Homo sapiens: one gene and its partners. The protein of the gene in region 1 purifies or fractionates together with the protein of each later gene. This does not show direct contact. Each region holds a gene or a part of one and is shown in the gene's direction. Other genes may lie near its edges.

Region 1 (3,500 bases):
AACCAGCCCTCAGACCAATAAACAGAACATACTCAGCATCCCCAGGGGCTCCCATTGGCCTCTTTTGGTCACCACCCCCATAGTAACCACTCTCTAGATTTATAATGCCATTAATTAGTTTTATCTGTCTTTAAGCTTTAAACTCAGTGACAGAGCTGAGTTTTGAACCCAGCTTTGCATGGCCTTAACGCACGCTCTTTCCCTCCTGCTACCAAGCTCTTCCTTCCTTAATTGAAGCTCCAGTAGTACATTTTAAAAAACATTCAATTCTTGGCCGAGTGCAGTGGCTCATACCTGTAATCCCAGCACTTTGGAAGGCCGAGGCGGGCGGATAACAAGGTCAGGAGTTCGAGACCAGCCTGGCCAACATGGTGAAACCCCGTCTCTACTAAAAATACAAAAATTAGCCGCGTGTGGTGACTGGTGCCTGTAATCCCAGCTACTCGGGAGGCTGAGGCAGGAGAATCACTTGAGGCAGAGGTTCCAGTGAGCCAGGGTGACAAGAGCCTGGGTGACAAGAGCAAGACTCTGTCTCAAAAAAAAAAAAAAAAATCAGTTCTTAATCCAAAACAGCTCAATAGCCAAGTGCAGTGGCATGCACCTGTAGTTCCAGCTATTTGGGAGGCTGAGGTGGGAGGATTGCTTGAGCCCAGGAGTTCAAGGGAACAGTGAGCTATGATGGTGCCACTGCACTCTAGCCTGGGTGACAGAGCAGGACCTGGTCTCAAAATAAAACAAAGTAAACCCCTAGCCATCGCCCCCTCAAAAACAAACAAACAAACAACAACAACAAAAAGCTCAATGATGGAGAAAATTGTAGCTAAAATTGTTGCATTCACAACCACTTTGCTTTGTTTTTATGTCATTGGGCTGAGTTATAATAGCCGGGCCAGAGCCCAGGTCTCCTTGCCCCTCACGGCTGCCCTGGGTCTGGGCTTATGTGCTTCCTCTCTATTGTGTCCCTACCTCAGTCAGCCTCAGGGCTCTTCTCTTCCAGGCCTGACTCAGTAAAGAAATGAGGAAGCTCCCATTTCTTTATTGCCCATAGGCTGTTTCTGTGTTAGTGTCAGGAGCAGAGAGGATATAATGAAAGGTATAAATGGGAAAGTGATGAGGGTTAACATAACAAATCCAACTCCAACCCAGATGTGAGAAACTCCTGCCCCTCACAATTCAGGTGGCATTGCCTTCTGCCCCACATCAGTAGAAAGTTCTCCCTGAGGTTCTTGCCCATTTTGGAGGGGGCTTATCTTTTCATGGCCTCCCTTACCTTCTGGTTGGTTTCTGCCAGTACTGTGTTGAATCAGACTCAGTGAAAACTCCATACCTGTTTTTGGGCATAAACAATGACAGATAACTACTTTTATTAAAAATATGTGCATCACATATACACCATGGAATACTATGCAGCCATAAAAAGGATGAGTTCATGTCCTTTGTAGGGACATGGATGAAGCTAGACACAATCATTCTGAGCAAACTATCCCAAGGACAGAAAACCAAACACCGCATGTTCTCACTCACAGGTGGGAACTGAACAATGAGAACCCTTGGACACAGGGTAGGGAATATCACACACTGGGGCCTGTCGTGGGGTAGGGGGAGGGGGGAGGGATAGCATTAGGAGACATACCTAATGTAAATGACGAGTTGACAGGTGTGGCACACCAACATGGCATGTGTATACATATGTAACAAACCTGCACGTTGTGCACATGTACCCTAGAACTTGAAGTATAATAATAAAAAATAAAAATATGTGCATCAAGTAGACACTACTGAAAGGTAGCTGAGTCAAGGACAGAAGACATGGCATGCCATAGAGACAACAATATCACGTTCCTGTTCTTCCATAGTCCCCTGCAGTGATCGTGCCACAGAGATCCTGTCTAGGCTTGCCTCCTACCTAACTCCCCGTGTGCCACCAAGACCTGGCTCCTGTCTTCATTGCTGCTTCCCTTCCCCTCCTGGTGGCTTGGAACTTCACATCTTCTCCCTCTGTTGTGCACAGCAAGTTAGCTTTCCTCTCTGATGCCTGAGCATTGGCCATCACCCATGTGGTTCAAGTCCAACCTTCTGCCCAAAGTACTTATCAGGTCATACGAGTTGTACGTGCATACAGAAATGGTTAGAAGCTCAGGCCCTAGAGTCAGCCTGCATAGTTCAAGTTCAGCCCTTCAACTTGCTACTGTGAGAACTTGGGTGGGTTATTGTGGTCAGCTTTCTCAATTGTAAATTGGAGAAGATAAAGCACCTATTCCATTTGGTTGTTATGAGGATTACATGACATGATCCTTACAAAAGATATAATCAAATGTCTTGGTACGTAGGAAGTGCTTGATAAATGCTGGCTAATATTTTCATTTGTTTTAGTTTTTCTAGATACAAGGCCTCACTCTGTTATCCAGGCTGGAGTGCAGTGGTGCGATCATAGCTCACTGCAGCCTTGAACTCCTGGGCCTCCTGCCTCAGCCTCCTGGGTAGCTGAGACTATAGGCATGAGCGTCTGCACCCAGATAATTTTTAGATTTTTTTTTTTTTTTTTTTTTGTAGAGCCAAGGTCTCGCTATGTTGCCCAGGCTGGTCTCAAACTCCTGGTCTCAAGCAGTCCTCCTGCCTCAACCTCCCAAAGTGCTGGGATTACAGGTGTAAGCCACCGTGCTGGGCCACTAATATTTTTAGAGGAAATAGTTTGTGTATTATTTGAGGTCAGAGACTACTGTATCTCCAGGACTTTTCAGGCAAGCCATAAATGGTTGATGGATGAAAGTTATTTAAATAATCCCTTAAATATTATTTTCTTTCTGTAGACCAGTGAAGCTCTTACAGTGCGTGGACCACAGCACCCATCCTGACTGTGCCTTAAAGTCGTAAGTAAATGTCTTAACCCAAATCGTTCTTTCCAAAGATAACCATCTCCTTTCAGAAGTTTTCAGTTCACAAACATGAACATATTATCAGAGGCAGATGTAAGTGTGCTCATTGGATTCTGGTTTGGCCTTATTTTTATTTATATGTATCTGTCTTAGTTTTTGTACAAAAAGCAATCACGCTACACATAACGTCCTGCTGTGAGCTTTCTTCACTTGCTGGTGTAATGGGGCCACCCTTTAAAGTTTGTTCATACTTCTGTCCTAGTCTGTTAGTGGCTGTAGAGCAATCTGTAGGATGGTCACACTACCTTTTTTTTTGGGAGGCGGGGGGCAGAGTCTCGCTCTATCGCCCAGGCTGGAGTGCAGTGGCGCAATCTCGGCTCACTGCAAGCTCCGCCTTCCGAGTTCACACCATTCTCCTGCCTCAGCCTCCCGAGTAGCTGGGACTACAGGGGCCTGCCACCACGCCCAGCTAATTTTTTTGTATTTTTTTGTAGAGACGGGGTTTCACCGTGTTAGCCAGGATGGTCTCGATCTCCTGGCCTTGTGATCCGCCTTCCTTGGCCTCCTAAAGTGCTGGGATTACAGGCGTAAGCCACCACGCCTGGCCCACACCACCTTTTATGT
Region 2 (2,751 bases), on another chromosome or scaffold:
GAACATTTCTCATGCTGTTGTTCTATATGTCTACATTTGGTAAGTTAAAAATTATTTTTCCCTTCCTAAATATAATCCACAATTCCTGAAAGCATGTTTTTCAAGATGCTAGTCCCTCAAGATGCTACTTGAGAATGTAAAAAGCTCTGTTATCACATAACTTTGGGGCACATAGTATACTATATACCACTCCTGAAGGTTTATCATATACATCAGCAATAAATTTACATCTACAACAAACTTATGTATTTAATTTTGTTTAACCATTGTTTTGCAAACATATAAGACTACTAAACCCCTTTCTTGTATAAGACTTGTTAATATCCCATGAAAGAAACTTTGAGAAACAACTATGATTATTTAATCATTTAGAGAAAAAAGGAATAGTGATATTAACTATTTGTTGAAGGCTCCTATCTGCCAGGCATTGTCCTCAGAGTTCTTAGAATTTTACATAAAGTATCTTATTTAAACCTAAAATGAACCTAATAAATACAAGTACTGTGGTCATCCCCTTCTTACAGATGAGAAAACTGAGGTTGAGATAAGTAAATTACTTGCTGAAGTCCACATGGCCAGTGGGGTAAGCATGTGAATTTTGGCAGCCTGTTTACAAAATCCATATACAATCTCCAGTCTCCATGGCATTTAATGGTATGAAAAAAATGTGAATGATGCTATTTGTGAATGTTCAGCTAATAAAAGAATGAGCTATTTTAAGATATTTGGTTATTTTTGTTACATAGATATTGCTGGAATTCCTCTGCCTCAGAACCTGAGTGGATACTCTTTGTTGCCGTTATCATCAGAAACATTTAAGAATGAACATAAAGTCAAAAACCTGCATCCACCCTGGATTCTGAGTGAATTCCATGGATGTAATGTGAATGCCTCCACCTACATGCTTCGAACTAACCACTGGAAATATATAGCCTATTCGGATGGTGCATCAATATTGCCTCAACTCTTTGGTAAGTTTGTTAATATATTTTTAAGTGTAATATTATGTGTAATGAACTGCCCTATGTAGCATTGCTCAAGATATCCAATAATCCTTGTTAAATAAATGAATATCTGCTGCTTCTCATGCTAGGACGATCTACAAAAGGTTGCCCATGTGAGGAACAGCCTCTTTGCAGATCAGCAGCTGAATTTCAGAGAAAGTGTCCTAAGGCTTTTGATCTGGGTCTCATGACTGAAACCAGTTTTCTCTGATCAGGGCATCTTTCAGTACTCATGGTTATCTTTCCCAATTTGAAGTCAACACCTCATTGTACCTCATTGTTCTGAAGGATTAACACCTATCTTATGAAGCCTGACATTTTACATGTATTATTTAATGTTCACCACAACCCCACAAGATAGTACCATTATCCTCATTTTACAGAGGAGTCTATGAGAGAAATTTGGATACCTGTGTGAGGTCTCACAGCTAAGAAGTAGCAGAACTGAGATTTCAACGAAGCTGTGACTGTAAAATTGATGCTTCTTACAGCTTCTAAAAAATGTCTGCCAGCTTCACTACTCTATGAATTAATTTTTAAGCAGCATTTTTAGATTCAGGGTTTTACTCATCCTTTGTCCCCATTTAGTACATAAAATATGTGCTAAAGCCATAAGTAATATTTATTTCTCCCTAAGGCTCCTTCCCAGTTACAAATAGCAAAATTATTATCAAAATAATACTTTGGGGGCCAAACTGGCCAACCCCCTTCACTTGAAGAGTGGAGGATTCTTGGCTGAAAAAGGAAGTCTTTACATTTTCATCCTGATGAGTAATGGGCATCTCTTGCTTGTTCATTGGCCATTGTCAAATGAAATTTATGGGAGGCCATTGTTTTGAACTGAGTTCCTACACCAGGCTCAACAGACCACATCAAACCAGAATGGGGTCACTGGCAGTAGGTGCCCCATAATCAAACTGAACTTTAGAAGAAAAAAAAAAGAGAATCACAATAACCAATCCGAAGGGGCTCATTTTACCTGAACCAGCATAAGGAAGTCTCCTCTGTTTTTACTGGACAAAGAAAGTAACACTATAATGACGAATCTGCTTTTTGTTCCATGTTTCTGGGACTTTTTCATCAGCCTTTTTCTGCCTATAAAGCCCACCTCCCCTGCTCAGCTCATCAGAATGCCTTTTCTAAATCTTTAGAGGGGTTGCTGCCCAATTCAGGAATCACTAAATAAAAGCCAATTTGTTCTTTAAATTTGTTGAAATTTTGTTTTTTATACCATGTTCTACCAAAAAACTGATGTGACTATCAAAATGTCAGAAGTGGGGAATCAGCCTTTTCTGTACTTTTTAGGGCTTATTGATTTCCCTTTCCTAAAGATGTACCATCTGGAAATTACCTAGCAAAGTCACATATCTCTTCAGGGGCCTCTTGGCTACTGCACTTAAGTAGGCCCATAGAGGTTTTTCCCTCAACATACAGTGTTCATTTACTATCTGAAGTTAATTGTCATAAGATCTCTGACTTGCTGTTCTTCCAGTTAGATTGGTATACTAGTTATATCCCTGTCTTCCCATACCATATCTAAAAAGTATCTTTATGGATCTGAAATATTTATCATTATTTTCTTGCTGGCAGTGATTGAGAAGTTTGTATTTCCATGGCTGTTTGTTCAAATGGACAGTACTGATGAATGTAACTTTCAAAACTCCAAGCATAAGATACTAATATATAAAGAAAACTAGGACTAAGTAAAGTTGCAGGAACATGACTTGTCTATATAAAGAATTTGTAG
Region 3 (3,418 bases), on another chromosome or scaffold:
CCTATGAGTGAGAATATGCGGTGTTTGGTTTTTTGTTCTTGTGATAGTTTAGTGAGAATGATTTCCAATTTCATCCATGTCCCTACAAAGGACATGAACTCATCATTTTTTATGGCTGCATAGTATTCCATGGTGTATATGTGCCACATTTTCTTAATCCAGTCTATCATTGTTGGACATTTGGGTTGGTTCCAAGTCTTTGCTATTGTGAATAGTGCCGCAATAAACATACGTGTGCATGTGTCTTTATAGCAGCATGATTTATAGTCCTTTGGGTATATACCCAGTAATGGGATGGCTGGGTCAAATGGTATTTCTAGTTCTAGATCCCTGAGGAATCGCCACACTGACTTCCACAAGGTTTGAACTAGTTTACAGTCCCACCAACAGTGTAAAAGTGTTCCTATTTCTCCACATCCTCTCCAGCACCTGTTGTTTCCTGACTTTTTAATGATTGCCATTCTAACTGGTGTGAGATGATATCTCATTGTGGTTTTGATTTGCATTTCTCTGATGGCCAGTGATGGTGAGCATTTTTTCATGTGTTTTTTGGCTGCATAAATGTCTTCTTTTGAGAAGTATCTGTTCATGTCCTTTGCCCACTTTTTGATGGGGTTGTTTGTTTTGTTCTTGTAAATTTGTTTGAGTTCATTGTAGATTCTGGATATTAGCCCTTTGTCAGATGAGTAGGTTGCGAAAATTTTCTCCCATTTTGTAGGTTGCCTGTTCACTCCGATGATAGTTTCTTTTGCTGTGCAGAAGCTCTTTAGTTTAATTAGATCCCATTTGTCAATTTTGGCTTTTGTTGCCATTGCTTTTGGTGTTTTAGACATGAAGTCCTTGCCCATGCCTATGTCCTGAATGGTAATTCCTAGGTTTTCTTCTAGGGTTTTTATGGTTTATGTCTAACATTTAAGTCTTTAATCTATCTTGAATTAATTTTTGTATAAGGTGTTAGGAAGGGATCCAGTTTCAGCTTTCTACATATGGCTAGCCAGTTTTCCCAGCACCATTTATTAAATAGGGAATCCTTTCCCCACTGGTTGTTTTTCTCAGGTTTGTCAAAGATCAGATAGTTGTAGATATGTGGCGTTATTTCTGAGGGCTCTGTTCTGTTCCATTGATCTATATCTCTGTTTTGGTACTAGTACTAAAGTAGATTCTTTTACTAAAAAGGCAGAAGGCCTTGCTTTTAGACAGCTTGGCTAAGGATTCTTGAATGGCTCAAAAGTGGCAAAATAAAAGATAACTCAAATAATTCAGACACTCTTAAAGCCATTCTTCTGTGTCTGGATCGTGGTGTGATGAATATAACATAACTTTCAGGCAAATGGGTCGTGAGGTGGTGATTGGGCCAAATGGATTTAGGTCAGTCCTGGAAAGAACAGAGCCTGAGTCCCCTGTCTACCCAGGAGCTCCTGAGGCTACCTCCTCCTCCTTCAGCGAGTTTGGGTTTAGGGCAGGGGTGTGGCTTTGCCGAATATGGACCTGAGTTCAAATATTTGCTCCACCACTCATTAGCTTTGCTAGTGCTGTGACCTGAGGCAGGTCGCTTGGCCTCCTTGGGCCTCCTCAGTTTCTTCCTTTGAAAAATGAGGATGATAATGTGCACCTTGTAGGACTATTGCGAAGCTTAAGTGAGATAAGTGCCTGACAAGTAGTAGGTGCTCAATAAATGGGACTGTCATTAGGTAACATAAGCATCACTTGGGGAAGCTACTCTGCCTGTGCTGTCAAGTAAGAGATTCCCTTCCATGCTGCCCCCTCCACGCATTTCAAAGCTGAATAGCTCAGATTTGGGGCAGGCAGCTATTTTGGATATAAGATTAGTTTGAGAAGACTTCCTGGAGGAGGGGAGTTTGAGGTCAAGTAAGGAAAATGGGAGAGATGGCAGTCTCAGCAGGGTTGAGCTGAGTGGCTTAGACCCCTGTCTGTCCTTATCCCTAGGACTGCGCCCGGGGCACGGCCAACTGTGTGGTGTTCAGCTGCCCACTCTACAGCTTTGACCGCGCGGCTGTGCTGCATGTCTGGGGCCGTCTCTGGAACAGCACCTTTCTGGAGGTGAGGATACCACTCGGCTCTAGTCTGTGTTTCTTCTTCCTCCAAAGCCCCTCCAGGACTCATTTCTCCTCCTCCTTCCTCACTGTCCAAATGCAGCATCCCCCCCCTTTTTTTTTTTTTTGAGACGGAGTCTTCCTTTGTCCCCCAGGCTGGAGTGCAGTGGTGCGATCTCAGCTCACTGCAACCTCTGCCTCCCAGGTTCAAGAGGTTCTCCTGCCTCAGCCTCCTGAGTAGCTGAGATTACAGGCACGTGCCACCACACCCGATATTTTTGTATTTTTCATAGAGACGGGGTTTTGCCATGTTGGCCAGGCTGATCTCAAACTCCTGACCTCAGGTGATCCACCCTCCTTGGCCTCCCAAAGTGCTGGGATTACAGGTGTGAGCCACTGTGCCCAGCCCAAACGCAGCATACTCTTAACCCAAACCAGGCAGAAACATCCTCTGTGTTGGGCACCATTACATTTATAATTTCAGGAGGTAAGGGGAAGGGAGGGAGACATGGGGCATTTAGGAGAAGGGTCTCCTTCCCTGTTCCCTTAGGAGTACTCAGCTGTGAAGTCCCTGGAAGTGATTGTCCGGGCCAACATCACAGTGAAGTCCTCCATAAAGAACTTGATGCTCCGAGATGCCTCCACAGTGGTGAGCTGCAGGGTTGGGGGATAGGTGGGGAGGACTCTCTTCTTTCCTGCTCCCTCCAGTTCTTGTTCCATTGACCTCTTGCTCCATTGACCCCTTGCTCCCCAGATCCCAGTGATGGTATACTTGGACCCCATGGCTGTGGTGGCAGAAGGAGTGCCCTGGTGGGTCATCCTCCTGGCTGTACTGGCTGGGCTGCTGGTGCTAGCACTGCTGGTGCTGCTCCTGTGGAAGGTGAGGCTTGGAGGTGGGGCTGATGGGGGTGGACTTCCTGGTTGGGTGAGCAGCATTTTGTATTGTGGTTCTGTCACCCACCCACACACTCATGTATTCAGCAAATCTGCACTGAACACTTGCCCTGCATGTCTCAGGAACTCTATTAGTCCCTGGATGTTTCAAAGATAAATCAGATGCAGGCTGGGTGCAGTGGCTCATGCCTGGAATCTCAGCACTTTGGGAGGCCTAGGCAGGTGGATCACTTGAGGTCAGGAGTTCGAGACCAGCCTGGACAACATGGTGAAACCCCATCTCTACTTAAAATACAAAATTAGCTGGGCGTGGTGGCACGCACCTGTAGATCCAGCTACTTGGGAGGCTGAGGCAGGAGAATCGATTGAACTCGAAAGGTGGGGTTGCAGTGAGCCGAGATGGCGCCATTGCACTCCAGCCTGGGTGACAGAGCGAGACTCCATCTCAAAAAAAAAAAAAAAAAAAAAAG
Region 4 (3,500 bases), on another chromosome or scaffold:
TGCCCAGGCTGGAGTGCAGTGGCGCGATCTCAGCTCACTGCAACCTCCACCTCCCAGGTTCAAGTGATTCTCCACCTCAGCCTCCTGAGTATCTGGGACTATAGGCACCTGCCACCATGCCCGGCTATTATTTTGTGTGTATTTTTTAGTAGAGACAGGGTTTCACCATGTTGACCAGGCTGATTTCAAACTCCTGACCTCAGGTGATCTACCCGTCTCGGCCTCCCAAAGTGCTGGGATTACAGGTGTGAGCCACCGTGCCCAACCTCAAACTTCTTTCAAAAGATATGTGATAACACCCCTTCTCATTTTGCTCATCCATACTTCTGACCCCGATCAGTGAATAACCAAGAATTTATTGACCAATCAATGTGAGCCCAACAGTGCCATAGTATGAGATAACACTAGCCAATATTTATCAAGTATGTACAATGTGCCAGCTACTGTTCTAAGAATTTTACGTGTATCAACTCATTTAATATTCAAAATAAACCTTTTAGTTAGATCATATTATTGATATTATTGTTTCCCCCATTACAGTGATAAGGAAGCTGAGGCATAGAACCATTAAGTAACTTGCCTAGAGCTGTAAAGAGGTGGAGTCAGAATCCAAACCCATGTGATCCACATCAGGAGCCCACACTCTTAACCATTGCATGTATTTCTTGGCTCTTACTCTCAAAAAAACCCATTGGGAAATAACCAAAAACTGGTAAGACAGTGTAAACTCTTAAATGTAATAGTTAAACAATGAGAGAGCTCTGTGATTATTCAGAATTGGGCATATTGTTTCCTTAAATTGGAAATCTTAACAGTATATATCCTCTAGAAAAACAGAATTTGGGGGAACTGAAAAAGCTGACCTTTAATGTGATTCTGAATTCTGGAATTCAGTGAGCCCATGACTTTTAATCCATAGTCACTTTTGCCTTTTAATGTCTACAGGCTAGACTTTGGAAAATAGGGAAAATATATCTTTGACAATGTGACACTAAACCAAGGCTGTCCAGATCCTGTGGCATGATTGCAGTTGCCTCTTTTCACTGTTCCAAGACTGATTTAGGACGACCTGTCTGTTTTTGTTGAAGACATCAGAGTACCATGATATCATGTATCCTGCTTGGACATTTTGGGAAGGGGGACCTGCTGTTTGGCCAATTTATCCTACAGGTCTTGGACGGTGGGACCTCTTCAGAGAAGATCTGGTAAGGTAGGTCCTTTAAAGAGGTTTTATTTTTTCTCTTTCTGGGTTTTCTTGAAATAAGCCATAGAATATAACCAATTATTTACTTTTTTTTTTTTTGAGACGGAGTTTCGCCCTTTTTGCCCAGGCTAGAGTGCAATGGCGTGATCTCAGCTCACCGCAACCTCCGCCTCCCAGGTTCAAGTGATTCTCTTGCCTCAGCCTCCCGAGTAGCTGGGATTACAGGCATGTGCCACCACACCCGGCTAATTTCGTATTTTTAGTAGAGACGGGGTGTCTCCATGTTGGTCAGGCTGGTCTTGAACTCCTGACCTCAGGTGATCTGCCCACCTCAGCCTCCCAAAGTGCTGGGATTACAGGCGTGAGCCACCGCGCCCAGCCTATTTATTTTTAAGTGACTAATTTTTAAGTTAAAAATTAAAGACAGAAAACTGTAGTGTAAACAATTTTGTACGTGTCTAATAATATTTACATATCCATAGAAAGGGGCAGAATAGTCTATCCTAAACTATCAGCAATGCCTCTTTGCAAGGGATTATCAGAGACTTTTGTTTTGTATTTTAAATTTTTCTTTCTTTTTTTTTTTTTTTGCGACACAGTCATGTTCTGTCTCCCAGGCTGGAGTGCAGTGGTGCTATCGCGGCTCACTGCAACCTCTGCCTCCCAGGTTCAAGCAATTCTCTTGCCTCAGCCTCCCGAGTAGCTGGGATTACAGGCATGTGCCACCACACCTGGCTAATTTTTTGTATTTTTAGTAGAGATGTGGTTTTGCCATGTTGCCCAGGCTGGTCTGGAACTCCTGGCCTCAAGTGATCCACCCACCTCGGCCTCCCAAAGTGCTGGGATTACAGGCACGAGCCCCTGTGCTCAGTCAGTATTTTCAATTTTTCTATACTTAAGATTCTTTAAATAAGAGTGCATTCTTTCATAGTAAGAAAAAATGAATGACCTCGTCATAGGGGGGATAGAAAATTATTTGGAAGAATATAAACATACTTGGCAATTGAGAGCTAAGTAGTTTAGGCAGGGCTGAGGGAGCATAAATGTCCCATAAGCATCTCAAGTACAAGCTTATTCCAGATCCTCTCTGATTCATGACTGAGACATGCCTTGGCCTGTTGACTCCATCCTGCTATCATTTCAGAATTTAGATTGTGTAGCTCATCCAAGCTGTAGGTATTTCTTACCTAGCTACATTTTACATCATGATTCAAACAACTTTGGTGCTTAATTAGAGAACTTCCGGAAACACAGTCATTATAGGCCTTCTCTCAGGTATAAGGAAAGCAAACAATTCAACCTTGTTTCCATAAATACCTATCACCTCTCCCAAGTGTGGCTGAAGATTCAAAGAGGATTAAGGTAATATTCCCTTCCTGAAGAAACGTACAGGGCTGCAGTCCTCAGTGGTGGGTAGAGCCCTTTGTTAAAAAACAAACTTCTCTAGTGGGTATAATTTGGAAATTTTAAAAAATAATAACTTAGTCTCATATTTTACAGAACTGGAACTAGAAATTGTCTTTGTCCAGCCCTTTATTTCAGGGATAAGGGAATGAAGGTACAGAAAGGTTTAGTGATCTGGTCAAGGTCAGAAGCAAATCTAGGCCTAAAGACCAGGTTTCCAAGTGCATTATCCAACCTACTTTACTGGTTAATATTCCTTGTGTTTTCCTGACATTGAGACTGTCATTTCTTGTTTATTTTTGGGTTTTGAACATAATTTTGAGAGGGGGGGAAAAAGGTGTGGTTTTTTTGTTTCTTGGTTGTTTTTTAAAATTTTTTGTAGAGACAGGTCTTGCTATGTTTCCCAGCCTGATCTCAAACTCCTGGGCTCAAGTGATCCTCCCACCTTGGCCTCCAAAGTGCTGGGATTACAGGCATGAGCCACCACACTAAGCTGGAAAAAAGGTTTTAAACTTTTTTTTCCCTAAGTTATTCTTGGCCTTGGCCTTAATTTTCTAATCCTTTCCCCCCCTCCTCAGGTACTTGCAAATACCCTTTTCACATTCTTCTTTTTGTAGCTCTTTTCCCACCTGCCATGCAGCTGCTTTGTTTTCAAAATCTTTAAAAACATTTTTACTGATTATGAAACCTATATATGCTCATAAAATTTTACAAATATGTATAACTCAGGCAACTTTCCCCCTAACTTATTGGTGTATCTAAGTAATCTTTCCATGTCTTTGTTTCATGTCAGTACATATGAAAGAGTCACTTTATTTATTTGTTTGTTTGTTTATTTTTAAAAGGCAGGATCTCACTATGTTGCCCAGGCTGGACTCAAACTCCTGGGGTC
Region 5 (3,500 bases), on another chromosome or scaffold:
GTGTGTGTGTGTGTGTGTGTAATTAGAAATATATAGAGAAAATGATATTCGTTATCTGGGATTAGGTAAAGGAAGGCTTCTACTTTAGATTCAAAACTTTATTAACCAATAAATTACTACTATTTTCTATAGCTTTTCTTTAAGAGTATGTGCATCTGTCACAGGCCAGAGCATTGCAAACACAATAGGTAAGCATGTTTTCATTTTTACATTCTTATGGTATACTAAGAAAGTTGAACAGTAACCATTTCTCTGCACAGACCATAAAAAAATGAAAGAACCCTTGAGGAATACCAAGATATCTGTTGCATATATGGAACCTTCTAATAAATATTACTTCAATACTTGGTAATACTATTATTTATAAGAACATATAATTGTAGGGAAAATGACAACTTTTATAAAACCATTATAAAACATTTGTAGCTTGGAGAGTATGTTATACAATTTTTCCAGCTCATTTATCATGCTTGGTCTCAACTATGAAAAAGAACTGTTTCCTGAATAAGCAACTTGAAATAGAAATTCATCTCTCTGATAGAGCACTGTGTTCACTGAATACTTTTTCTCTACTTTACTTCTGTCCTTTAGTCTTGATGGCAGAGGTGCAATTAGATTCCCTGAAACAGAAAGGAGCTATTAAACGGACGCTCTTCCTTGATAACCATCAGGCTCATCGCGTCTTCCCTCTTGTGATAAAAAGGCAGAAATCCCACCAGTGCCAGGATTTCATCGTTTACCTTCGAGTAAGTATTCCAGAAAGACTTCTCTGGCCTCTCTCCTTCATATCCAAATTCCAACCATTTTTCTCCATTTAACCATCATGTTTGTCTGCATAGACCCCCATCTGTCTGTTTTCATTTTCATAGCAGGAAACTTTATTTTAGGGTCAAATACTCTCCTCTTGACCCTGACTTCAACTAACCTGATGATGTGTTGCTATTAATTTCTAAGGCTTCTTTTCATTTTGATCAAAATCTTTATAATGGCATTCAGCTCACATGGTTTTCATTTCTACCCACCTCCTCCCCAAAATACATAAAAGTGCAACACAGTTTATGTGAATTTTTCTCCTATGTGAGTATGTCTTGTTAGATTTTATCAATGCATGTTTCAGAGCCAATTCAGGAAAATATTTAGGCATTCAAAGCTTTTATTAGAAGTAACTTATAATTATCTTATTTAAAGTAATGTCTTTTTACAATGACTTCAAAACCTACCGAAATTTTAAAGTAAAAATATTTATAACACAATTACCTATCTTCACCTTGCCGGTTGTGAGGTTGTGATAACTGTCTCAATTTCTCTTTTCCATTAGGGGACTTAGTTAGCAAGGACCACCCTAGGGAAGATCACAGGTTCACAATCACACTCAAGAATGAAAAGTTGGATACCTGACCCTTGATTGGCAAACAATTGAAGGGTGACATATCCACCGTGTGTTTAGTGCTTGCTGTTTGGTGCTTACCCCTCTCTACTAAAGGAGTTCTGTTTCTTTTTCCAAAAGAACTTCAAATATCCTGAAGGTGTTCTGAAGTTCATGCAGGCAAGGGCTTAAAAAGATGATGAGAGGAAGAGAATCAAGATGTTTTCTTCTTCTGAGCCCCAAGAGAGAACTCATAAATTCTGGCAACCTCACGAAAATAAAAATCCAAATTCATGATGTTTTTTGTGACATTTATGATATACACGTGTAATCTTTTACTTTGCAACTTGACCAGTTCTGCATGAGTTGTTGAAGGTCTGGAGAACCCAAAGATTGGCTCCAGAAGCGTATTTCAATGAAGCCGCAGCTCTAAATGATTTCATCACTGCACATATATTAGGTATGCTGGCTACTATATACCACATAAATCAGCCTCCATCTAAGCCTGCTGCAAAGATAATTGTTTCATCATTCACTTTCATTGAGTAAATTCCAGTGTTGCCTGACTTTTGCAGACTGACATCTTGCAGCTATTTCATGGAGCCTCTGTTGAGTTTGTGATTATTTTTCCTAGGATGAAACTGAATTCCGAGATAAATTATCTCCAATCAACATTAGTTTGAATTACAGTTTGGACGAATCCACCTTTAAAGAAGGCCTGGAAGTGAAACCAATATTGAACTACTACAGAGAAAACATTGTTAGTGAACAGGTAAGTCCTTCACAGTCTTTGACGGCATTTTCTCAAGCAAGCTCTCTGGGGTGTTGTTCTCATGGCTTTAAGACTAAAGCCAGCTCCTTTCATTTTTACTTCTGCATGCAGACATGGAACATTTGGGAGTTTTCCTACCATGTTTCCTGAAACACTGCATGATTGTGTTTTTCGGAAGCCTTTCCTCTTGTGCAATCAAGATTTAATTTGTTCAAAATGTGGCTGTAATGGAAGCAATACAGCCTGTAATCCTCAAGCCATAGGCAGAGTTGCATTCTTTGCAGATATTTCAGAGTGCATTGGAATTGGGCTATTATGTAAAGTAGCCTGTATTGGGAGGTCACTGTGAAATGTAGGCTATTGGCTTGGGTAGAGTCATGCATAGTGAGAGGAAAGCTCTGGTTCCGTTTGTGGCACCATTCAGAATTTTCAAGAAAAAGGATGTGAATCAGATTTTCCTAGATTGTTCCTGACGTGCGTTTATACAACACAGGCTCACATTCTGGTGGACTGTGGAGAAGACAATCTGTGTGTTCCTGACTTGAAGCTGTCGGCTAGACCGTAAGTTTAAATAACTAAATGTGTACTTTCTATCTAATGGAATTACAGGTATTTATGTAAAGGTTCTCTGGAGAAAGTATACACTTCCAATAACTACCAAAAACTATGCTGCGTGAAATTCTTGAGCTTGGCTACACTTTGGGTTAGCCTGTGGTTTGGGTCAGTTATTTGTCATTGGTGTCAAATGACACACCCTAAGATTTTGCCTGGGTCGTTTCATCTTTCAGCAAAAGTGGGGAAAAAAATGTTTTTGTTGAAAGTAAACTCATTGATGGGGTGGCTCGGGTTATGTTTACTTGCCTCAGTCAAGTAGACAAAGGATTCAGACAGGCAGGTTCCATCTACACCTTCAACCAAACTTTTTTTCAGCACCCCATGACTCAAAGCCATCCTTAAAACTGTCAAAACAAAATTAATTTTAACTTATTGAATAAATAAACCTAAATAGCACTCTATGGAGTAAAGCAGAAGGTGTCACAAAATTGAAACGAATCAAAGGGCTTCACAGTTGCCAGTAATGGACGCCCCCATTCCAGCACTGGAAATTGCACTGTATTCTGTTATGGGAAGACATGGACTAGGATGTAAAACATTCTGTGGTCAAGAAACAGATTTGTGTTTCTTTCCCTCCCAGGAACTATCTCACTGCCAGTGTTTGGAATCTGCTTGGTAACTTCTCAGAGGGACTTCCCCCAAATTTCATAATTTATCAACTTCAAATGCAATCGCTTTAAGTAAGGTTAAAAAGTGGAGTAGGCATTTCCAACTATTGGCTTGATTTGCAGTTCTAAGTGAACTGCA
Region 6 (4,239 bases), on another chromosome or scaffold:
ACTTAATACTTTTATTGGAAAACCAGAACGCCTAACCACACATTTTGCCTAATCTTTCATGTAATTAACCTTCCACTAGTGCAAGTGTTGAAAGTAGAATACGCTATTCCCAAGTTTCAAGTTGAGGGAGGCGGGATTCCCAGGTTCTGGTTGTACATTCCCATTTTCACTGATCTGTTCAGTGGTCAATGGATTCTTGGGTTGCTTTCATGTCAGCTACTGTGAATAATCCTGCTATGAACATGGGTATACAAATATCTCTTGAAGGCTGGGTGGGGTGGCTCACACCTTCACCCTGGCACTTTGGGAGGCCGCAGAGGGCAGATCACCTGAGGTCAGAAGTTCAAGACCAGCCTGGCCAACATGGCGAAACCCCATCTCTACTAAAAATACAAAAATTAGCTAAGCATGGTGGCAGGTGCCTCTAATCCCAGCTACTCTGGAGGCTGAGACAGGAGAATCACTTGAACCCAGGAGGCAGATGTTGCAGTGAGCCAAGATCGCACCACTGCACTCCAGCCTGAGCGATGGAGCAAGACTCCATCTCAAAAACAAACAAAACTAAATCCCCCCAAAAAACCAAAAACAAATATCTCTTGAAGACCTTCCTTTCAGTTCTTTTGGGTGTATGCTCAGAAGTGGAATTGCAGCTGGGCGCGGTGGCTCATGCCTGTAATCCCAGCACTTTGAGAGGCCGAGGTGGGCGGATTACCTGAGGTCAGGAGTTGGAGACCAGCCTGGTTAACATGGCGAAACCCCGTCTGTACTAAAAATACAAAAATGAGCCAGGTGTGCTGGCGCGCGCCTGTAACCCCAGCTACTTGGGAGGCTGAGGCAGGAGAATCGCTTGAACCCAGGAGGTGGAGGTTGCAGTGAGCTGGGATCACGCCAATGCACTCCAGCCTGGGCGACAAGAGCGAAACTCCATCTCAAAAAAAAAAAAAATTGTTCCAGAGAAGTGAAGAGAGCCCAGCGGGAGCCCGCAGTGGGGACAGCCTGGGCAGAGACTTGGGGAGATCCCCATTCTGGGTGGAACGGGCCGAGGACCACTGTTTTCCCAAGAAGGTCCCATGAAGGAGCAGCCATGCCTCTAGGCCCCACCCGGCCTTCAGGGGGTCCCCAGGCTTTAAGGGGACTCCTGGCTCAGGGCCAGGCCCTTGGTGCTGGAGGAGGTTGTAGGTGGAGGACGGGGTCACCAAGAGGGCAGCCGGGACCCCTGGGCTGCAGACAAGAAAGGGACTGTGGGGTCCACCGGGTCTGGGCCACATCAAGAAGTGTGGTTGAAGACCCGCCCCTAGGGGCTGAAAGCCAGGGCGCTGCCAGGCATGAGAGGCCCCAAACAGCCCTTGGGCCCAGGAGGGTGAAGCTGGGAGTAGAGGGCAGAGCTCCCACCCCGCCCCGCCCCCAGGGGGCGCCCCGGGCCCGGCGCGAGAGGAGGCAGAGGGGGCGTCAGGCCGCGGGAGAGGAGGCCATGGGCGCGCGCGGGGCGCTGCTGCTGGCGCTGCTGCTGGCTCGGGCTGGACTCAGGAAGCCGGGTGAGCTCGGGGCGCTGCTGGCGGGATGGGGAGGCGGGGGAGCGGTGGGGAGGACGGGAGGTGGAGGCCGCGGGGAGTCACTTCTTGTCTCCCGCAGAGTCGCAGGAGGCGGCGCCGTTATCAGGTAGGGCGCCCAGGACGCGCGATTCCTGCCAGGGCCGTTGGGCCGAGGTGGACGGGGGGCGGTGAGGGGGTAGAGGGGGGCCTTTACTGCTCTCTCGCCCCCGCCCCCGGGATCGAGAACTCTGTTGGCGTGGAAAGTAACTAACGGACGCTGGAGGGGGATGGGCGGGCCCTGCAGAGCACGTGGGAGGATCTCCAGTGTCACCTACTTCCTGCTGCACACACGCGAGGGGACCCTGGGTGGGCAAAAACGTGCTTTCCCGGACGGGGTTGAAGGGGAGAAAGGGAGAGGTCGGGCTTGGGGGGCTGCCTCCCGCGGCTCAGCAGTTCCTCTGACCATCCGAGGACCATGCGGCCGACGGGTCATCACGTCGCGCATCGTGGGTGGAGAGGACGCCGAACTCGGGCGTTGGCCGTGGCAGGGGAGCCTGCGCCTGTGGGATTCCCACGTATGCGGAGTGAGCCTGCTCAGCCACCGCTGGGCACTCACGGCGGCGCACTGCTTTGAAACGTGAGTGGGGGTGCGAACGGAGGGGTGCGGGGACGGGCAGGAACAGGGCTGGAGGGAGTGCCACCGAACTTTACCTCTGGTCTGATGCCAGACTTGGGCGTGAAAGTTGTGCGTGGATGCGGCCTGGTGTTCTCCTGAGCCCCAGGCTGTGCTGCAGCCGGTTACACCCACTCCAGTTCCCTTTGGGTCTCCTGGAGGGAACCCTGTTCAGGTTATTCCAGAATGTTCTTCCAGAACATTTCCACACACTTTTGGGTATTCTCTCCCTTTTTCTTTCAACCCAAAGTTCACCACTGACCATCCCACCCTCATCCCCCCTCCTGGTGGACGGTGCGGTACAGTGTGGGGCACTGAGCCAAGGCCAGCACCCCCGGGCCGCTGTGTGGACTCCATCCTGCCAATCCCACATTGGCGTGGTGCATCTCCCCATTCCTCCTTGGGCTGCATGGGGGTGCCCCTGGAGGCCTTGGCTCAATGCAAGGCTCCTTGGGACAGCTCTGGGAGGTGACAAGACCCCACCCTTCTGCTGCAGGAGCAGGTCCTAGGACTTTGGTTGTGGTCTGTCTGGGCTCCTTCATTTCTGCAGGGGACCCTGGGTGTTAGCAAGTAGCAGCAACACCACAGTTTCCCCTCCTGCACTGGACCCCAGTTGTGCTCAGGTAGCCAGCCCTCCATCCAGGGCCCCTGACTGCTCTCTTCTCTTCTGCCAGCTATAGTGACCTTAGTGATCCCTCCGGGTGGATGGTCCAGTTTGGCCAGCTGACTTCCATGCCATCCTTCTGGAGCCTGCAGGCCTACTACACCCGTTACTTCGTATCGAATATCTATCTGAGCCCTCGCTACCTGGGGAATTCACCCTATGACATTGCCTTGGTGAAGCTGTCTGCACCTGTCACCTACACTAAACACATCCAGCCCATCTGTCTCCAGGCCTCCACATTTGAGTTTGAGAACCGGACAGACTGCTGGGTGACTGGCTGGGGGTACATCAAAGAGGATGAGGGTGAGGCTGGGGACAGGCGGGTCAGGGAGGAACTGTCTTTGTTCACCTGTTCCCCTGCATAGGCACAATAGCCCCCTGCTTGGTCTGGGGGTGCAGGCTATGCCCCTCTTGCTTGCAGTCTCTCCTCACCTGCCAGGGCAGGGACCAAACACCCAGTTCTCTCCCTTCCAGGGGCTGTGGGGGCCAGAAGGAGAGTGTGAGAGGGAGGCCAGTTTGGCGCAGGCCTGTGGGTGGTGCGGTGGTGGAGGGGTTCTGGAGGGCTTGGCGACATAAACCTCATACTTGGATTTATTCCTGCATCTTTCCACCTCCCCCAGTGCTCACCAATGCCCCAGGCATCAGGCTCCTGGGCTGCCTCTCCATGCCTCCCACACCCACCCTAGCTCTGGCCGATTCTCCTGCAGCACTGAGCCCATTCCTCTCCCCAGAAACTTCCAAGCCATGCTCAACCGCAGCTCCCACGGAAACCCCTCTGGGGGTTCCTCTGGTGGGCCTGCCCTGGCACCTGCGTGTCCCCCAACACACATGCCCTGAAAGAAGTGGGCCCAGCATCCGGAGGAGCCCCGGCAGCCCCAGACTGGGCGTGTTCCCTGTATCAGGAATCCCTTCCCTCTGCTCCCCTGTCTGGCCCGTCCCTGCATCATCCCACAACAGTAGTAACAATAACAAACGTGGTTCCTTGAGCACACGCTGTGTGCCTGGCACTGTTCTAGACATGGGGGCCCAGCAGTGAGCCAGGCGCGGCCTCTCCTCCTGCTGGAGCTCACCTAGGAATGAAGTTGGTAACGTTCTTATACCCATCTTACAGATGAGAAAACTGAGAGGGTTATGGAAATTGCCAAGAACTAGTAAATGGAGAAGTCAGGGCCCCTTGCCTTAGAGAGGGTAAGGGATGTCCCCAAGTCACACCCCGGCAGTTGGGAGTGGGGAACTCAGCACTGGAGCCGCCTCCCTCTGGAGGAGGGATCCTTTGCCTTCCCTGAGAAGGACCCTTGCTGCAAACACGAGTGGATATGAGCCAGGGGCACGGCCAGGCTGCCTCTGCCACCCTCTCTCCCCAGCCCAGG
Region 7 (3,500 bases), on another chromosome or scaffold:
CCATCTTCTCTGAGTGCCTCCCATTGGCTCAATCCCACTGGAAGCCAGAAGGCCTGGGGAACTGGGACAACAGGGACCAATACGTGTCAGAGAAGGACAGACGATGGACCTGGTGGGTGTGTGGGGCAAATGGAGGACCTCCTGTATACCCCCAGCACCCCCAGGCTTGGGACTCTTGCTGGCATCTGCACCTTTGTAGTGGCAGTGCCCTACTGGATAAACCTGTCAGTCCTTCTCCACCTGGCAAACTCCTGCATCTTCAGTCTCATTTGGACATTCCCGTTTCTGTACCTCCATCGTGGTACTCAACACACAGCAATCAAGACTGCCTGCCCACGACTCTGCCCCCTCCCTGGACCAAGCTCCTTCAAGGAGTGACCCCATCTTTTAATTGTTGAGAGCACGCAGTAAATGGCAGGTGAGCAGGGCTAGGGTGACATGAGTGAGGCAGTAGCCCTTGGTGTGAGATTTAAGCGGGGGAGGAAGGGAGTTTGCTAGAAATCTTAGTAATCAAGACAAAATATTTGAATACAATATTTAAAAAAAAATCAAATCATCAAACTACAGCCCATGGGTTGGCTACCTCTTTTGAGCGCCCACCCAAACTGGAATAGCTCCCAAGACCTCTAGCATGGTGTTCAAAAATTATTTTTGAGTTGGGCGCAGTGGCTTATGCCTGTAATCTCAGCACTTTGGGAGGCCGAGGCGGGCTGATCACTAGGTCAGGAGATTGAGATCATCCTGGCTAACGCGGTGAAACCCCGTCTGTACTAAAATTACAAAAAATTAGCTGAGCTTGGTGGCACGCACCTGTAGTCCCAGCTACTCGGGAGGCTGAGGCAGGAGAATTTCTTGAACCCAGGAGGCGGAGGTTGCAGTGAGCAACCTCCACTCCAGCCTGGGCGACAGAGCGAGACTCTGTCTCAAAAAAAAAAAAAAAGGGTTCACAATGCAGGACTCATCTTTACTTAACATACCCTCTATTCACCCTGATATTTTCTATTCTAGTCTAGTTTATTTGGCGTCATTAAAAAGTGCTGCTCATACCTTTCTTTTCTTTTCTTTCTTTTTTCTTTTTTTTGAGATAGAGTTTCACTCTTGTTGCCCAGGCTGGAGTGCAATGGCATGATCTTGGCTCACCACAACCTCTGCCTCCTGGGTTCAAGCGATTCTCCTGCCTCAGCCTCCCGAGTAGCTGGGATTACAGACATGTGACACCATGCCTGGCTAATTTTGTATTTTTAGTAGAGACGGGGTTTCTCCATGTTGGCCAGGCTGGCCTCAAACTCCCAACCTCAGGTGATCCGCCCGCCTCAGCCTCCCAAAGTCCTGGGATTATAAGCGTGAGCCACCATGCCCAGCCTGCCCATAACCTTTCAAATTCTGGCTTGAAAAACATTGAGCCTGTCATATCATCCTGCTTAATTTTCTCTGCTTTTAGCTGCCTGATACTTCCTTCTTATGATTTGTCTCTTTGCTGATCTCCCGTCTTGCCTTCGGGGTACAGCTCCCTGAAAGCAGGAACCCCATCTAGCTTGTCACTGCTGTCTTCTCAGCTCCGGGAACAGCGTCTGGCACGTAGGCGGCAGGTGTCCCGCAGTGAGCTGTTGAGCAAGCGAGTGAGTGGTGTTGGAGCAGAGGGGATGTGGGCCCTGGAAGCCAGGCTTTTCTAATTGCCTTGTTTTCCTCCCCTTCCCAGTTTGCCCTGGGGCCCCAGCCTGGCCCGGGTCACCCTGGCATGAGGAGATGGGCCTGTTGCTCCTGGTCCCGTTGCTCCTGCTGCCCGGCTCCTACGGACTGCCCTTCTACAACGGCTTCTACTACTCCAACAGCGCCAACGACCAGAACCTAGGCAACGGTCATGGCAAAGGTAGGCGACCTCCTGCACCCGGCTCTTTGCTCCCCTGGGTGACCTAGACCTCCTTGGCTCTTGCTGTGATCTGAGGGTTCCAGGCTGGGACAGGGACAGCAGCCCTGTTCCAGCAGGGCCCTTGTAGTGGGCCAGCTTGCTTCTCAGACAGGGGAAGGGGTGAGTTCATTTTCCTGTGTTCGCCAGCCCCTTCGTCATGGGGCCCAATTCACTTAGGCTTTTTACTTTCCCTAAAAGTCTTGCCAGTTGTTCAAGGTCCAGCTTGAATGTGTCCTCCCCTGGTCCCCCCAGTGGAAAGGGGACCTGGGGTCGAATAGATGTGAGTTTGAATGTTTTTTTTGTTTGTTTTTGAGATAAAGTCTCACTCTGTTGCCGAGGCTGGAGTGCAATGGCACGATCTCGGCTCACTGCAACCTCTGCCTCCCGGGTTCAAGCGATTCTCCTGCCTCGGCCTCCCGAGTAGCTGGGATTACAAGCATGTGCCACCATGCCTGGCTACTTTTTGTATTTTTAGTAGAGAAGGGGTTTCACCATGTTGGCCAGGCTGGTCTTGAACTCCTGACCTCAGGTGATCCACCTGCCTCGACCTCCCAAATTGCTGGGATTACAGGCATAAGCCACCATGCCTGGCCCGAGTTTGAATCTTATAATTCTACCTCTTACTAGCTGTGTGGCCTTGGGCAGGGAACGTTTTAAAGTAGCAGTTATTGTGCACCCAACATGGGTTGGGCGCGCTTCTAGATATTTTGCATATGTCGTCTCCTGTAATCACAAAAGCCCTGATGTAGGCAAGGGTGAAAATATACCTTTTTTTTTTTTTTTTTAAGATGGAGTCTCACTTTGTTGTCCAGGCTGGAGTGCAGTGGCGCGATCTTGGCTCACTGCAGCCTCTGCCTCCCAGGTTCAAGCGATTCTCCTGCCTCAGCCTCCCAAGCAGCTGGGATTACAGGCATCTGCCACCACACCTGGCTAATTTTTGTACTTTTAGTAGAAATGGGGGTTTCTCCATGTTGGCCAGGCTGGTCCTGAACTCTTGACCTCAGGTGATCCACCCGCCTCAGCCTCCCAAAATGCTGGGATTACAGGCGTGAGCCAACGAGCCTTGCCGAAAATACACATTTTTAACCATTAGTGCAGCACGGGTGCTGACCAGGCTGAATTGATGCTGTCTGCCCTCACAGCCTGAAAGTAGATTCTATTATCATCCCTTCTCATAGATGAGCAAACTAGGCTCAGAGAGTTGATCCAGTTGTCCAGGTCAAACAGCTATTAAAAAGACAAAGCTGAGGGCTGGGTGCAGTGGCTCATGCCTATAATCCCAGCACTTTGGGAGACTGAGGTGAGTGGATCACTTGAGGTCAGGAGTTCAAGGCCAGCCTGGCCAACATACCGAAACCCTCTACTAAAGATACAAAAAATTGGCCAGGCGCGGTGACTCACACCTGTAATCCCAGCACTTAAGGAGGCCGAGGTGGATGGATCACGAGGTCAAGAGATCAAGACCATTCTGACCAACCTGGTGAAATCCTGTCTCTACTAAAAATACAAAAGTAGCCGGGCGTGGTGGCAGGTGCCTTTAATCCCAGCTTCTCAGGAGGCTGAGGCAGGAGAATTGCTTGAACCTGGGAGG

What was found.
Region 2: the proteins of BST1 (region 1) and ARSK purify together in Homo sapiens (affinity purification with mass spectrometry; one large-scale study listed by BioGRID and IntAct). This does not show direct contact.
Region 3: the proteins of BST1 (region 1) and ITGA7 purify together in Homo sapiens (affinity purification with mass spectrometry; one large-scale study listed by BioGRID and IntAct). This does not show direct contact.
Region 4: the proteins of BST1 (region 1) and POGLUT1 purify together in Homo sapiens (affinity purification with mass spectrometry; one large-scale study listed by BioGRID and IntAct). This does not show direct contact.
Region 5: the proteins of BST1 (region 1) and ITGA8 purify together in Homo sapiens (affinity purification with mass spectrometry; one large-scale study listed by BioGRID and IntAct). This does not show direct contact.
Region 6: the proteins of BST1 (region 1) and PRSS21 purify together in Homo sapiens (affinity purification with mass spectrometry; one large-scale study listed by BioGRID and IntAct). This does not show direct contact.
Region 7: the proteins of BST1 (region 1) and HAPLN3 purify together in Homo sapiens (affinity purification with mass spectrometry; one large-scale study listed by BioGRID and IntAct). This does not show direct contact.

Annotation. Positions count from the first base shown.
Region 1 is NC_000004.12:15,720,065-15,723,564, forward strand, and holds part of BST1 (ADP-ribosyl cyclase/cyclic ADP-ribose hydrolase 2 precursor), read left to right. Parts: intron 1-2,810; coding exon 2,811-2,870; intron 2,871-3,370; coding exon of another isoform or gene 3,371-3,392; exon of another isoform or gene 3,393-3,500. UniProt on the Homo sapiens protein: Catalyzes both the synthesis of cyclic ADP-beta-D-ribose (cADPR) from NAD(+), and its hydrolysis to ADP-D-ribose (ADPR).
Region 2 is NC_000005.10:95,600,101-95,602,851, forward strand, and holds part of ARSK (arylsulfatase K precursor), read left to right. Parts: intron 1-746; coding exon 747-971; intron 972-2,751. UniProt on the Homo sapiens protein: Catalyzes the hydrolysis of pseudosubstrates such as p-nitrocatechol sulfate and p-nitrophenyl sulfate. Catalyzes the hydrolysis of the 2-sulfate groups of the 2-O-sulfo-D-glucuronate residues of chondroitin sulfate, heparin and heparitin sulfate.
Region 3 is NC_000012.12:55,687,487-55,690,904, reverse strand, and holds part of ITGA7 (integrin alpha-7 isoform 2 precursor), read left to right. Parts: intron 1-1,947; coding exon 1,948-2,061; intron 2,062-2,604; coding exon 2,605-2,703; intron 2,704-2,808; coding exon 2,809-2,934; intron 2,935-3,418. UniProt on the Homo sapiens protein: Integrin alpha-7/beta-1 is the primary laminin receptor on skeletal myoblasts and adult myofibers.
Region 4 is NC_000003.12:119,478,963-119,482,462, forward strand, and holds part of POGLUT1 (protein O-glucosyltransferase 1 precursor), read left to right. Parts: intron 1-214; exon of another isoform or gene 215-712; intron 713-945; exon of another isoform or gene 946-1,088; coding exon 1,089-1,210; intron 1,211-3,500. UniProt on the Homo sapiens protein: Dual specificity glycosyltransferase that catalyzes the transfer of glucose and xylose from UDP-glucose and UDP-xylose, respectively, to a serine residue found in the consensus sequence of C-X-S-X-P-C.
Region 5 is NC_000010.11:15,604,923-15,608,422, reverse strand, and holds part of ITGA8 (integrin alpha-8 isoform 1 preproprotein), read left to right. Parts: intron 1-132; coding exon 133-188; intron 189-591; coding exon 592-746; intron 747-2,000; coding exon 2,001-2,138; intron 2,139-2,631; coding exon 2,632-2,699; intron 2,700-3,500. UniProt on the Homo sapiens protein: Integrin alpha-8/beta-1 functions in the genesis of kidney and probably of other organs by regulating the recruitment of mesenchymal cells into epithelial structures.
Region 6 is NC_000016.10:2,815,798-2,820,036, forward strand, and holds the start of PRSS21 (testisin isoform 1 preproprotein), read left to right. Parts: upstream 1-1,439; 5' UTR 1,440-1,471; coding exon 1,472-1,535; intron 1,536-1,632; coding exon 1,633-1,659; intron 1,660-2,003; coding exon 2,004-2,169; intron 2,170-2,879; coding exon 2,880-3,172; intron 3,173-4,239. UniProt on the Homo sapiens protein: Could regulate proteolytic events associated with testicular germ cell maturation.
Region 7 is NC_000015.10:88,885,545-88,889,044, reverse strand, and holds part of HAPLN3 (hyaluronan and proteoglycan link protein 3 isoform 2 precursor), read left to right. Parts: exon of another isoform or gene 1-1,619; intron 1,620-1,699; coding exon of another isoform or gene 1,700-1,746; coding exon 1,747-1,870; intron 1,871-3,500. UniProt on the Homo sapiens protein: May function in hyaluronic acid binding.